Linked DNA regions of Homo sapiens. The protein of the gene in region 2 binds, or shares a complex with, the protein of the main gene of each other region. Each region holds a gene or a part of one and is shown on either strand. Other genes may lie near its edges.

Evidence for each region. Proteins that work in one complex are often made in the same cells at the same time.
Region 1: SMU1 (region 2) and MFAP1 share a complex: the UniProt entries of both Homo sapiens proteins name them as parts of the spliceosome B complex.

Annotation. Positions count from the first base shown.
Region 1 is NC_000015.10:43,821,214-43,829,424, forward strand, and holds the start of MFAP1 (microfibrillar-associated protein 1), read right to left. Parts: upstream 3,478-8,211; 5' UTR 3,357-3,477; coding exon 3,278-3,356; intron 1-3,277. Other genes in the region: WDR76 (WD repeat-containing protein 76), read left to right, coding at 5,820-5,879, 6,752-7,153. UniProt on the Homo sapiens protein: Involved in pre-mRNA splicing as a component of the spliceosome.
Region 2 is NC_000009.12:33,066,121-33,073,777, forward strand, and holds part of SMU1 (WD40 repeat-containing protein SMU1), read right to left. Parts: coding exon 7,476-7,657; intron 5,773-7,475; coding exon 5,620-5,772; intron 2,815-5,619; coding exon 2,704-2,814; intron 1-2,703. UniProt on the Homo sapiens protein: Involved in pre-mRNA splicing as a component of the spliceosome. Regulates alternative splicing of the HSPG2 pre-mRNA. Required for normal accumulation of IK.

The DNA.
Region 1 (8,211 bases), on a different chromosome or scaffold from region 2:
TAGGAGGAAAAATATGTAATTTTATTGAAAGATAAAAAAGATGTAAATAGAGAAATATTTCATGTTCAAGGATGAGAAGATGGCAACTGCACCTGAATTAACCTATAAATGTATAATCTATCATTTTAATGCAATTCCATTAAAAGTTGTCTCCAGGCTTATTCCAAAATCATATGGAAGAACAGGAGGCCCCAAAATGCCAAGACAATGCTGAAGAAGAATAAAGCTGATGGGGGCGGGGAAGGAGGGGTGGGGCATAGTTTACCAGATATGTCAGTGACCCAGGAAGTACACAGAGATCAATGTAACAGAGAAAAGAAAAACAAACTTATATGAGAACTCGAGTATATTATAGGGATGGCATTAAAAATCAGTAGAAAATGGATGGGGTGAGAAGGGACAATTGGCCAACCATATAGTAAAATTAGACCTCTAACTTCCACCACAGACACAAAAATTCCAGATGGATTAAAGACGCAACTATGAAAAACTTATCTTAAATATTTACATTCCCTACTGGACTGTAAGCTAACTTATAATCTGTCTTGTATAAGTGTGTATTCAACTCAATTTAATATATACAAACACTCAGAAGATAGAAAACCTTTACAATATGAGTATCTGTGATCTCAGTGCAGGGAAGGATTATTTCTTAAACGATATACAAAAAAAAGCTAAAACCATACAAGATAAAGTTGATAAATCTGATAATACTAAAACTAGAAACGTGTGTAAGAGAAGACTCCATAATTAAAAGACAAGCCAAAAAATGGGGAAACGTATACTATAGATTTGGAATATATAAAAACAAAGCAAACAGAAAGTGGGTAACTGACAGAAACAGGTAATTCATGGAAAAGAAAATCTAGAGAGCTTATTAGACACATGAACAAGATGCCCAGCATCGGCCGGACGCAGTAGCTCTATGGTGAGCCGAGATGGAGCCATTGCACTCCAGCTTGGTCAACAAGAGTGAAACTCTTTCTCAAAAAAAAAAAAAAAAAAAGCCCAGCATCACTAGTAATCAGGGGAATGCAAATTAGAATAATGAGATACCATTTCACACCTGTTAGATTGGGCAAAAAATGTAAAAATCTGATACAACCAAGTGTGTAGATGATGAATATATGGGAAATAAAGCTCTTAGGTTCTCAAAGTTTGTTTTCTTTTTTTTCTTTGAGACAGAGTCTTGCTCTGTTGGCCAGGCTGGAGTGCAGTGGCATGATCTTGGCTCCATGAAACCTCCACCTGCCGGGTTCAAGTGATTCTCCTGCCTCAGCCTTCCAAACAGCTGGGATTACAGGCGTGCGCCATCACACCCGGCTAATTTTTGTATTTTTAGTAGAGACGGGGTTTCACCATGTTGGCCAGGCTGGTCTCAAACTCCTGACCTCAGGTGATCCACCCATCTCGGCCTCCCAAAGTGCTGGGATTACAGGCCTGAGGCATCACGCCCAGCCTTTGTTTTAACAGACAGGGTCTTGATCTGTTGCTTAGGTTGGAGTGTAATGGCACAATCATAGCTCATTGCATCTTTGAACTTTCGAGCATAAGTGATCCTCCTGCTTTGGCTTCCCCCAAGTAGCAGGAGCACATCACTACATCCCGCTAATTTTTAATTATTATTATTATTATTATTTTTGAGACGAAGTCTTGCTCTTGTCCCCCAGGCTGGAGTGCAATGGTGCGATCTCGGCTCACTGCAACCTCTGCCCCCTGAGTTCAAGTGATTCTCCTGCCTCAGCCTACCGAGTAGCTGGGATTACAGGCGCCTGCCACCACACCTGGCTAATTTTTGTATTTTTAGTAGAGACGGTTTCACCACGTTGGCCAGGTTGGTCTCGAACTCTTGACCTCAGGTGATCCACCAGCCTCAGCCTCCCAAAGTGCTGGGATTACAGGCGTGAGCCACCGCGCCGGGCCCTAATTTTTATTTTTGCAGAGATTGGCGGGGGTGGGGGGTGGTCTCGCTATGTTGCCCAAGCTGGTCTTGAACTCCTGGCCTCAAGCGATCCTCCTGCCTCAGCCTCCCGAAGTGCTGAGATTACAGGTGTAAGCCACTGTGCTCCACAAATTCTTATGTTCTTATAACTTACTTTGGGGAGCAATTGGCAACAGGTACTAAATAAAGCTAGTATTGGCTAGAGAATGACAATTGCAGAACTTTCTTTTTTTTTTTTTGAGAGAGTGTCTCACACTGTGGCCCAGGCTGGAGTGCAATGGTGCGATCTCTGCTCACTGCGACCTCCACCTCCCGGGTTCAAGCAATTCTCCTGCCTCAGATTCCCAAGTAGCTGGGATTACAGGTACCCACCACCATGCATGGCTAATTTTTTGTATTTTTAGTAGAGACGGGGTTTCGCCATGATCGCCAGGCTGTCTTGAACTCCTGACCTCAGGTGTTCAGCCCGCCTCAGCCTCCCAAAGTGCTGGGTTTATGGGCATAAGACACCGTGCCTGGCCGCAGCACTTTTTTGAACAAGGGGACAACCACCTGCCTCTCAGTAGGGAATAAAGTGTGGATTACAGTTTATTTTATACAATGGAATTCATAAGCTGTTAAGATGAATGAATTAGATGTATAGGGATCCAAAGATAATTCTCAAAAGCCATGTTGAGACTAGATACGGCGGCATCTACTCGGGAGGCTGAGGCAGGAGGACAGCCTGAGCCCCAGGAATTCGAGTCCAGCCTGGGCAGCATAAGCAGACTTCTATGGACAGCAAAAGAGGGACTGTATCCCGCACAATGCCCTGCCAACAGGCATTCTCTATCTATCTATCTAGTCTGATATTATATACATATTCTGATATATACTTAAGTTCCTAATTATTAGATTAATAATATACTTAAGTTCCTAAGTAATTACACTAATAATACATAAATTCTTGTAATTATATGTAATTAGTGATATTATATTCTAATCATAATATATATTAGACTAATACATATATTCTAGCATATATATATTAGACATATATATTCTGATATATACTTAAGTTCCTAATGTTTTTATATGTGTAATATATATTATATATATGTAACATTAGTCTAAGGAATTTGTGGAGGCTAACAGAAGAGAGGTGCTTGCTGAATACGAGAGCAGGCCACAGGAACAAGATCGGATGCAAGTGGGTGGGGGTGGAAAGATCGAAGAATCTGGCAGCCAGATCTCAAGAGCTGGCGGGGTTGGAGTGGTCTGTCCGGGAGAGGTCTGGAGGTTGCTGGGGCCGGAAGGGGTTAAAATTCGACTGGGAAGAGGGTGTTAGCACCGTACCTTTCTCATTGCGAACTGGGACGGCCCCAGCCGTAGACTGAATGGGCGGTTGCTTCATGAGAGCGCTTGGGACCGACATGTTGATGGCAGCGACGGTGATTCCCGAAACTTGACTAATTCCAAACAGTGAACACCAGCAACGTCAACGAAGAGAAGAAATTCCTTCCACCTGAGTCCGCGAACACAGCTGCGCGACTGATAGAGAAACTACTTACGGCTGAGCTAGATAAACCGGAAATACGTGACGAGAGGATTGTGGGATGGTGGACGACGTTTGGGCGCCCACAGCTAGGAAGTCGAGTCGGTTTCTGCGCATGCTCATTGGCTGCCCGCATGTCCTCTACGTCGCAGAATTTGGAAGCAGCTTTTGGCGGGAAATTTTGCTTCCTTTGGGCTTTGCTGTTAGGACTCTGCGGTGAGGAAGGTTCGAATGAAAGATTTTACGTGTTAGCTTGGTTTGAAGCCAAGAACGGTATAGTGAATAAGAAACTCAGGCGACAGTGAGTTACTGTTTGAATGGCTTGTTGAAAGCTCAGAAGAAGTAGAGTTTGATGGAATAAAAATCTTGCCAGTAGTATCCGATTAGCTTAGTTCATAAGGCCAGGGTGGGCTGTGGTGCGGTATTTGGTTTCACAGGGCAGGTGGTGCTGATTTAGGCCAGTGACCGAAAAAAAAAAAAAAAAAACTCCCGAGGTGCCTGGGACATTGCCCACCTGAAATCCCAAAACTCCACTTTTTTAGGCTTTCAGGTTTTTCCAGTTTCTGGAAACTACCTATTAAAATACATTCCTGGCTAGAAAATGTTTGTATTTAAATATCTAAGTAATTATTATTCTTTTGAGACTGTCTTTTTCTGTCACCCAGGCTGGAGTGCAGTGGCTCGATCTCAGCTCACTGCAGTCTCCACCTCCCGGGTTTAAGCAATTCTCGTGCCTCAGCCTTCTGATTAGCTGGGATTACAGGCGCCTGCCACCACTCCCTGCTGATTTTTGTATTTTTAGTAGAGACGAGGTTTCACCATGTTGGCCAGGCTTAAGTGATCCGCCCACTCCGGCCTCCCACAGTGCTGAGTGTTGGCGTGGGCCACCACTCCCGGCTAATTTTTGTATTTTTAGTAGAGGCAGGGTTTCGCCATGTTGCCCAGGCTGGTCTTGAACTCCTGACCTCAGATGATCCACCTACCTCGGCCTCCCCAAAGTGCTGGGATTACAGAGGTGAGCCACCGCACCCGGCCTATTTAAGAACTCTTTAAGGACTTACAGGATAATAACAGAAGCAGCTCCAATTTACAAGCTGAGTCGTGTTAAAAAATATATATAATATTGGCTAATTGGAAAGTCAGGACACATTTCACAGTAGAAAGGACTTTATAACTGCGGGGGAGACAAGGGACAGTAGGAACAAAGTCTTAAAGTCCAGAAACAGTATGTTTTATACAGGACACCATGAAAAGTTTGGTTTTATCAGTAATTTTTGAGTCATGAGGGGCCTTGAAGTTGCTATTAATATGATTAACCCAAATTACTTCACCTGTGTTCTACAATTGGGCCTTGAGTGGGAGAAGAAATGAAACTGGACAAATCTCAGGCAAGGAACAGTGTGGGACCCAACTAAGCAACCAAGGAAACAGTTTTGGGCTAGAAGGAACCTTAAAGAGAATAGCCAGAATCTTATTTTATTATTTATAGAAGAGGGTCTTGCTCTGTCGCTCAGGCTGGAGTTCCGCGCAATCACGGCTCACTGTGGCCTCATCCTTCTAGGTTCAAGCCATTTTCCCACCCCTGCCTTCTGAGTAGCTGGGACTACAGACGTACAACACCACGCTGGGCTAATTTTTGTATTTTTTATAGAGATGGGGTCTCACTATGTTGCCCAGGCTGGTTTGGAACTCCTGGGCCCAAGTGATCCACTCCTCTCGGCCTCTCAAAGTGTTGGGATTACAGGCGTTAGCCACCGCTCCCGGCCTGTTAGTGTTTTTCAAAGCGACATCCCAGTACCACCAGAATCAAAATCACCAGTCAAAGGTAAAAATGTCAGTTCAGCCCCAGGACATCCCTAAAGAATTTGAGTCTAGGGCTTTAAGACAGCATTTTTTTTTTTTTGAGACGGAGTCTCACTCTTGTTGCCCAGACTGGAGTGCAATGGCGCGATCTCAGCTCACTGCAACCTCTGCCCCCTGGGTTCAAGCAATTCTGCCTCAGCCTCCTGAGTAACTGGGATTACAGGCACGCGCCACCAAGCCCGGCTAATTTTTGTAATTTTAGTAGAGACGGGGTTTCGTCATGTTGGCCAGGCTGGTCTCAAACTCCTGACCTCAGGTGATCCGCCGCCTCAGCCTCCCAAAGTGCTTAGGATTACAGGCGGGAGCCACCGCGCCTGGCCAAGGCGGCCTTCTTAAGAAGCGCGCGTAAAACCCCAACTTCCTGCTCTGGCGCTGCGGCCGCTGGGGATCTGAGTGGGCTCCGCCCCGCCTCGGACCCGCCCCTCCCGGCCTCCCGCCGCAATCTTGGCGGGAAGGCGCCGGCCGCTAAGAAGCCGAAAGATGTCCAGGTCGGGCGCGGCGGCTGAGAAGGCGGACTCCAGACAGCGACCCCAGATGAAGGTGAGAAACGGACTGGTGCTTCCAAGGTGTGCTCCTGCCTCGGTTTTTGTGAGGGTTATGCGGGACACAGGCCCAGGAGGTCGAGGGCACCTGGCACCGGGGGTAGGCGGGGGATCCCTGCCCTTAGGCCTTCAGCTTTGACGAAAGGTTCTTATCAATAACCCGAGAAATAGTGGGAGAGTCACATCTGGGATTCCCTTTCTTCAACCTTCTGCGTTTTCTTCTGCCACAGTTATGATCGGCTTCACACTCTTTAAATAATTCCAGACAATCCGCAGCTGACAGTTGGGGTATTTGCCCCAGTCACAAATGCTAGTCATTATTATTATTGGTCTGGAAAACTTATGGGCAAATGTGCCCAGTAAGTGAATTCTACTGAGGTTAAGGTTAGTGAATTACATATCTAGGATTTTGGAGGGGAAAATAAGTTTTCTTACGAAGGGTGTCAATTTGGATTTATTTATTTTTTTGAGCTTAAGTCTCACTCTGTTGCCCAGGCTGGAGGGCAGTGGTGTGATCTCGGCTCACTGCAACCTCCGTCTCCCGGGTTCAAGTGATTCTTCTGCCTCAGCCTCCTGAGTAGCTGGGACTACAGGCGTGTGCCACTATGCCCAGCTAATTTTTGTATTTTTAGTAGAGACAGGTGGTTTCATTATGTTAGCCAGGATGGTCTCGATCTCCTGACCTCGCGATCTGCCCGATTGGGCCTCCCAAAGTGCTGGGATTACAGGCGTGAGCCACTGCACCTGGCCTCAATTTGGATTTATATTGTCTTTGGGAAATGGGAATTATTAGATCTGTTAGGGATCCTGTAAGAAAAGGCACAGGACTTGGAGTTCTAATATTCTGTTTTCTTTTATTGATCTGAATAGGTAAATGAATATAAAGAAAATCAAAACATCGCTTATGTGTCTCTGAGACCAGCACAGACTACAGTTTTAATAAAAACAGCTAAGGTCTATCTTGCCCCCTTTTCACTCAGTAATTACCAGCTAGACCAGCTTATGTGCCCCAAATCCCTATCAGAAAAGAATTCTAACAATGAAGTGGCGTGTAAGAAGACTAAAATAAAGAAAACTTGCAGAAGGATTATACCTCCAAAGATGAAAAACACATCTTCCAAGGCAGAATCCACGCTGCAAAATTCATCCTCAGCTGTTCATACTGAAAGTAACAAGCTACAACCCAAGAGAACGGCAGATGCGATGAATCTCAGTGTTGATGTGGAAAGTAGTCAGGATGGAGACAGTGATGAAGATACCACACCATCCCTGGTAAGAACTTAATTAGTAGCTTGTTCTGGTTTCTCTTTTTTGAAATTTGAAGTTCTGATAAATCGAAGTTTTTCGAGGATCTCTCTGGTACAAACAAGTTATTTCATCATCTAATGTAAGTATAAATGTAATAATACATTTTTATTATTTTTAAGGTTTAACAAATAACTTCCTTGGGTTATTTTTGCTCTTGCTGTTGATGTGTCAATGAAAGGATTGACTTAATCTTTACTCTGCTTCCTTTTTTCTTTCTCTAAACTAACTGCATATATTTTTGGGTTTAGTCATACTTTATGGTGCCTTTCTCACCTTTACATGTTTATGTACAGTATATCAGAAGTCATCAGTTTGTGGGACATGGTATTGACTGACCTTTGATATCAGGGTAGGGAAACATAAATTGATTCTATGGTTGTGTTGAATAATATTTCCTTTAAATGCAAAACGAGACAAATGACAGAGTAGGTAAGATACATGAGAAACACATTTGTTCTGTGTAATTCCAATCAATTTAAGGAATTTGGTGTGTAATTTTTTTCTTTTTTTTTTTTTTGGAGACAGAGTCTCGCTCTGTCGCCCAGGCCAGAGTGCAGTGACGCTATCTCGGCTCACTGCAACCTCGGCCTCCCAGTTTTAATAGATTGTCCTGCTTCAGCCTCCTGAGTAGCTGGGATTACAGGCGCGTGCCACCACACCTGGTTAATTTTGTGTTTTTAGTAGAGACGGGGTTTCACCATGTTTGTCAGGCTGGTCTCTAACTCCTGACCTTGTGATCCACCCGCCTCAGCCTCCCAAAGTGCTGGGATTACAGGGGTGAGCCACTGCGCCCAGCCTGGTCTGTAATTCTTTTGGCTTCTGCTGCCTACCAGGAGCGCCGTGCTCCATTCAAAGTGACAAATTTTAACTGGACAAGATAAAACATACATAGCACATGACACAATGTTGATGGAACTCAGAAAACAGAAAATGATCCTAGGGAAAGGGAGATACTATAATTGAAGGCTTGTTGTTATGAAATAGAAGTTTGCTTTATGCTTTCTCGTCCCAGAGTTAAGAAC
Region 2 (7,657 bases):
CTCCTCTTTCCAACCACCCAACCTGACATACCATAGCAGAGAGCTCTAAATATTTGAGGAAAACTCCCACATATGGTCAGCAAAACAAACAGGGAAGGGGAAAACTCAGAGAAAAAGAAAAAATAGGAATACAGGGACAATGCAGGAAGGATAATAAAACTTTAAACATTTAAAGAGAAAGAAAGATACACGGTATTACAGACACAAATAAAATCTCAAAAATTTATTTCTATGCTTCCTTTCTCAGGAAGTTACTGGACTCAGTACTCCCACAAAATGAGGGTCTAGGCTGGGCTCAGCGGCTTACACCTGTAATCCCAGTACTTAGGAAGGCAGAGGCAGGATAGTCTGGGCAACACAGCAAGGCTCTGTGTTCCATTTAATTAAAAAAAAAAAAAAAAAAAAGGCTGGGTGCGGTGGCTCACGCCTGTAATCCCAAAACTTTGGGAGGCCGAGGTGGGCAGATCACGAGGTCAAGAGATCGAGACCATCCTGGCCAACATGGTGAAACCCCGTCTCTACTAAAAATACAAAAATTAGCTGGGCATGGTGGTGGGCACCTGTGGTCCCAGCTACTCGGGAGGCTGAGGCAGGAGAATTGCTCGAACCCAGAAGGCGGAGGTTGCAGTGAGCCAAGATCGTGCCACTGCACTCCAGCCTGGCGACAGAGTGAGACTCTGTCTCAAAAAAAAAAAGAAAACTGAGGAATCTATAAATAAGACCTACCAAAAAAATAAGAGACCCAAAATTCCCAGTATGAAGATGAGAGAAGTCCTGGTACAGTAACTGTGCAGCAATGCAAGAGAACTAGTCCTGATGGGAACAAAAAGAGAAGGGCCTCAGGAAAGATATCAGCAAGCGGAAAAAAAAGGACTTTTGACGGTTCTACTAGAAATACTCAGGCTGGACTAGCAGAAGTGCATAGAAAACTAGGCAAAAGAAAAAATAAGCAATAATTATTGCAAATCATAAAAATTTATGTAAGAAATTACATGTAATTATTTTTTAGCTGTGAACAATAGCTATATAAAAATAACTATGTAAACATTGAATATAGATTGAACCAAAAGTTGTGATACAGCTCTACTGAAAATCCAGAAGAAGAGTAAGTGTGTATTGAGGAGAGTGGGTATAAGACAAATCATTTTTCGCTGAAGAAAGTTAGTTGCTAATGACCAAAAAAAAAAAAAAAAAAAAAAAAAAATCAGGTAATAACAGTATAAACATGGTATTCAGCTATGGAGCTAAGTCAGGAAAGTTAAGAATCAGAGGTGGAGAAGGGAAGCACATGGGACTGTTTTTCACTGTAAGCCCTGAAGTACTACTTAAACGATGCACTGCTATTAGTTTGATTAAGAAATCAAAAAGCAGCTTACTTTTTTTTTTTTTTTTTTTGAGATGAAGTCTCGCTCTTGTCTCCCAGGCTGGAGTGCAATGGCTCAATCTCGGCTCACTGCAACCTCTGCCTCCTGGGTTCATGTGATTCTCCTGCCTCAGCCTCCCGAGTAGCTGAGATTACAGGTTCCTGCCACCACGCCCAGCTAATTTTTGTATTTTTAGTAGAGACGGGGTTTCACCATGTTGGCCAGGCTCATCTCGAGCCCCTGATCTCAGGTGATCCACCCACCTTGGCCTCCCAAAGTGCTGGGATTACAGGCATGGGCCACCACGCCAGGCCAAAAAGCAGCTTACTTTTGAATCTCAGAGTCACTGCAGGCCTGCAACAAATAGCTTTTTGGTCCTTTTCTAAATGCAGATTTAGTGCAAAAAGGTTATTAACATCCCTATTAATCACTTGTGCCCTTTGTTATTTATAATATATCTATTACTCTAAGTAGCTTTATAATAATGACCATGCTGGCAACACTATTAGTAATTTTTTAAAAAATCATCACCAGCAGCTACCATTTACTATTTACAAGGTGCCAGGAAATGTATAAAGTGTTTATGAACATTATTTCTCTTAATCCTTACTCTCAATACTGTGACGAGTAAATGGGACCAGAAAAGTTAAGTAATTTGCCAAGACTATATAGCTGGTAAATGAGAAAGCCTGGATTCTAACTAGGATGGGCATTTGTTCCAATCTTTCCAGGACAGTTACTATTTGCACTTGGTGTTCTGGCATAGGGATCAACTGTACTCTCAACGATATTCCAGACAGGATGATAAATTCTATGGTAACCCTAATTCTAACTGACTCCAGAGCTTGTTCTTAACCACTAATCTATATTGCCTCTCCCAGGAAAGAGGGAGAGTGGAACAGCACAGTTACTGGAATAAGCAACTCTGTAGGTAGTCCCCAATTCTTAGGGTGTACAATTTCTTCAGCTAAGACATAGTTTATACATAGGAAATTAGGAAATTGTACCAGGAGTTCACTTTTTAAATTTATTTTTATTTTTGGAGACAGGGTCTCACTCTGTTGCCCAAGCTGGAGTATAATGGCATGATCATAGCTGTCATCTCAATCTTCTGGGCTCCAGTGATTGTCCCACCTCAGCCTCCCAAGTAACTGAGACCACAGGCACACCCCACCATAACCCGCTAATTTTTTTACTTTTTGTAGAGACAGAGTCTCACAATGTTGCTTAGGCTGGTCTCCAACTACTAGGCTCAAGTGATTCTCCTGCCTCAGCCTCCCAAAGTGCAAGGATGACAGGTGTGAGCCACCACACCTGGCCTCTACAGGAATTGAATTACCTGTCCCAGCAATGCCATGAGACGAGATGGAGGCACCACACTGACTTCGCCAGCTAAGGCCTGGGCAATTGCTGCTCTTCTCTTTTCTTTGCTACTTCCATCTGGGTATGCCTGAAAAAGGAGAGGGTGTAGCATCATTTCCAAGAAGCAACAACAAGATATGAGTGTGCTTATTTAAAACAAACAAGCAGAAGCATACACAGAGGAAAATGTGAAAAGAAATTACCCAGTTAAAGAAGGGATTAGTTGAACTAATTTAGTTTTTGAAAATGACTTCCCAATTCTGCCCGCTTGCATTTCAAAAGTATGAGTTGGGAGAAAACTGAGGTCAGCCAATCCACACTATTATTATTTTTTCACTGAGTTCCTGGCCAAAGGACACACTGCTATTTTTCTGAAAAGAGTCCAAGTAAACCACATTAAACCCAGAGTTGTTCTTCCAGTTTTTGAAAAATTTGCAGAACCAAGAATTCTTTTATACTCTTTAGTAATTTCTTAAATGGCTCCCAGCACAGAAGTGCTTCACCACCTCTAAGTTAAATCCTGTCCTGGTAATCTAAAATCCTTTCCTTTATCCTCATAGATTTTGTAGGTTTACTCTAACATTCTATTATCCAGTGCCTATTAAGTTCTTCTTCCTCCTGAGAAAATACTTGCAAACTACCCATCTGACAAGGGATTAATAACCAGAATATGGCTGGGCAGGGTGGCTCACGCCTGTAATCCCAACATTTTCGGGGGCTGAGGCTGGCAGATCACCCGAGGTCAGGAGTTTGTGACCAGCCTGGCCAACATGGTGAAACTCTGTCGCTACTAAAAATAGAAAAACTAGCCAGGCCATAGTGGTGGGTGCCTGTAATCTCAGCTACTCGGGAGGCTGAGGCAGGAGAATTCCTGGAACCTGGGAGGTGGAGGTTGCAGTGAGCTAAGATCGTGCCATTGCACTCCAGCCGGGGAGACAACAGCAAGACTCTGTCTCAGAAAAATAAATAAACAAATAAATAAATAACCAGAATACAGGGCCAAGTGTGGTGGCTCATGCCTGTCATCCTAGCACTTTGGGAGGCCGAGGCGGGTGGACTGCTTGAGGCCAGGACTTCGAGACCAACCTGGCCAACATGGCGAAACCCCATCTCTACTGAAAACTCAAAAATTAGCTGAGTGTGGTGGCACACACCAGTAATCCCAGCTACTTGGTGGCTGAGGCACGAGAATTACTTGGACCCAGGAAGCGGAGGCTGCAGTGAGCCGAGATCACGCCACTGCACTCCAGCCTGGGTAACAGAGCTCTGTCTCAAAAACAACAACAACAACAACAACAAAACCCAGAATATATAAGGAGCTCAAACAACTCTACGGGAAAAAAATCTGATAATCCAATGTTAAAAATGGGTGAAAGATCTGAATAGACATTTCTCAAAAAAAGACACACACAAGGCAAACAGGTTTATTTAAAGGTGCTCAACACAACTGATCATTAGAGAAATGCAAATCAAACTACAATGAGATATCATCTCACTCCAGTTAAAATGGCTTTTATACAAAAAGACAGGAAATAACAAATGCTGGTGAGTAAGTGGAGAAAAAGGAACCCTCGTACACTATTAGTGGGAATGTAAATTAGTACAACCACTATGGAGAATAGTTTGGAGATTCCTCAAAAAATTAAACATGGAGGTACCATATGATCCAGCAATCCCACTGCTAGGTACACACCCAAAAGGAAATCAGTATATCAAAGAGATATCTGCACTCCCATGTTTATTACAGCAGTGTTCACAATAGGCAAGATTTGGAAGCAACGATAAGTGACCATTAACAGATAAATAAAGAAAATGAGGTACATGTACACAATGGTGTACTAGCTGGACATATAAAAGAATGAAATCCTGTCATTTGCAACAACATGCATGTAACTAGAGCTCATTATGGTAAGCGAAATAAGCCAGGCACAGAAAGACAGACTTTGCATGTTCTCATTTATTTGCAGGAACTAAAAATTAAAACATGGAGATAGAGAGTAGAAGGATGGTTGTCAGAGGCTGGGAAGGGTGGAGGTGGCGGGGGTAAGAAGGAAAGTGGGGATGGTTAATAGATACAAAAAATATAAAGAATAAATAAGAAATAGTATTTGATAGCACAACAGGGTGACTATAGCCAATAATAATTATACATTTTAAAATAACTGAAAGAATTGAATTGTTTGTAACACAAAGGATACATGCTTGAGGTGATGGATACTCCATTTACCCTCATTATGCACTGCATGCCTATATCAAAATATCTCATGTACCCCATAAATATATACACCTACTATGTACCCATAAAAAATTTTTTTTAATCCTTTTTCCTCCTATTTTGACAAACCTCTAGTAAAAGGCTGGGGGGGTGGGCAGGAAGAATGAAACCATACAGATAATAAGGTTTAGGAAGAATGAAACTATACAGATAATAACGTTTTGGAAGAATAAAAGACTATCATCATGCTCTACTGGTAAGCATAATCCGCGAAGAAACAAAAGCTTCTAGGGACTAAAAAGGCTAGAAGGAAACTACAATTGTTAGGGGCAAGACACACAAATGATCAGTGAACATACCAGCAGTCAGGCAGCACTTCGGGGAGGGCTAATGTGGAAATGACATCAGAATAAAATGTTCTGCTTTTTTTACTAACCAACACGCAATCCTCTAAACTGAGGTGTATAGAAGACTCAAATAATCAGAAAACTGAACAAAATTATTCTCTTTAACATACGCAAATTTCAGCCAACATATATAAACAGAGAAGCATCATTCTCAAAAATTAAATCAAAATCACAAAGAGTATACAATAAAATGGTAAAAAAAAAAAAAAAAGATCATGTTATTTCATTTCCAAAGTTAACAAAAAGTTCCTTTTCATTACCACAGTCATACCTCACGAGGATCAAAGTAAGACCTGGCCAAAAGGTTCTCCAGATGAATATATCGCTCTGGCTGTGTTTGTTTTAACATGATCATGGGATCAGTCTGTCTCAAAAGTGACCTGGCAGCACCCAATTCACGGAGCTCTATCAATTCCAGAACAACCTGGACAATTAAAAAAAAACAAAAAAAACCCCAGATGTTTCAACACACCGTCTTATTAATATTTTTCGGTAAAATATCTAACACAGATATGGCCTGTCAAAGGATTTCCAATACCAGGAAGTGCCCCTTTCCATTTTCACTAGCAATTTCAGGTGGACTTGGTGGGCTTGGTGGCTCATGCCTATAATCCTAACACTGTGGGAGGCCAAGATGGGCGGATCACTTGAGGTCAGCAGTTCGAAACCAGCCTGGCCAACGTGGTGAAACAGACTCTCTACTAAAAATACAAAAAAAATTAGCTGGGTGTGGTGGTATATGCCTGTAATTCCAGCTACTTGGGAGGCTGAGGCAGGAGAATTGCTTGAACCCGAGAGGCGGAGAGTGCAGTGAGCCAAGCTCATGCTACTGTACTCTGGCCTGGGCGACAGAGCGAGATCTGTCTCAATAAATAAATAAATAATAATTTCAATCCTTCAAACTCTATCCTTCATTTTTATCTACCAATCTCCCCTCCTCTCAGGCTTCTTGCTCAGAATGTAGATGCCAAAGAAAGCTAAAGATGGGAATATACCCATGGGCTCCAGAGAAACCTTTCTCCAGTTACCAAAATTTTCTTTGGGAATTATTGAACTCATACGGATTGTAAAGAAACAAACTGCCCAGACACGGCAGCTCACACCTGTAATCCCAGCATTTGGGAGGCTGAGGCAGGTGGATCACTTGAGGTCAGGAGTTGGAGACCAGCCTGGCCAATGTGGTGAAACCCCGTCTCTACTAAACACAAAACTTAGCTGGGCGTGGTGATGCACGCCTGTAATCCCAGCTACTCGGGAGGCTGAGGCAGGAGAATCGCTTGAACCCCGGAGATGGAGGTTGCAGTGAGCAGAGATCGCACCACTGCACTCCAGCCTGGGTAACACAGTGAGACTCTGTCTCAAAAAAAAAACAAAAAAAAAAACCCGTAAACAAAAACCAAAAACCAATTTCACTACTTTTACTTCAAATTACAATCTTATTTCCAGAAAGTCTACTCTGCTGTTTTATAATCACAAATTTGTCTGATCTTTGTCCTAGGTTCTTGGCTTGGAGCTTCTTGGAATTTGACCAGTGATAGGGGTATCTTTGTTACTCCTGGGCCCCTTGAATCACACCTGGGTTTGTGCAAAGGAAATGGCTCAGGATAGGTAGGAGCTAGTTATCAGAAAGACTAACTATGTGATTAGAAAGTTGAGGCTCTCTCGTGCCTGTAATCCCAGCCCTTTGGAAAGTCAAGGCTGGCGAACTGCTTGAGCCCAGGAGTTTGAGACCACCCTGGGTATTATGGTGAGATCCTGTCTCTACAGAAAAATGCAAAAATTAGGCAGGCGTGGTGGTGCGTGCCTGTGTTCCTAGCTACTCAGGAGGCTGAGGCAGGAGGAAGGATTGATCCTGGAAATGGAGGATGCAGCAAGCTGTGATCTTGCCACTGCACTCCAGAGTGGGTAACAGAACAAGATCCAGTCTCAAAAAAAGGAAAGAATTTTAATTTGGGAAATCCTGGATTTTCCAAGAAGGGAGAAAAAATACAATGTCAAGCCTTGCCATTGTTGTATGGGCTGATGCAGCCCTACCGTGCTTGAAGGAATGCTCACTGACGCTTTTTAGTTGGGGAGCTGGCCCACAACGAACCAACCCATGGGGATCAGCATCACCACCACTCTTACCTGTTCATAGAGGTCAATGAGGGTTTTGTCTGGCAATTTCAGAGACTGTATAGCCTGCAACACAGTATCCCAATGGCCACTGTTAATGTCAGCCACAAAACTCTCAATGCTGTCCACAGTATTCAGAGACACAGTAGTCTCCTCCTGCAAGGTGGCTAACGCCCGATGTAAACTGTTCTCCT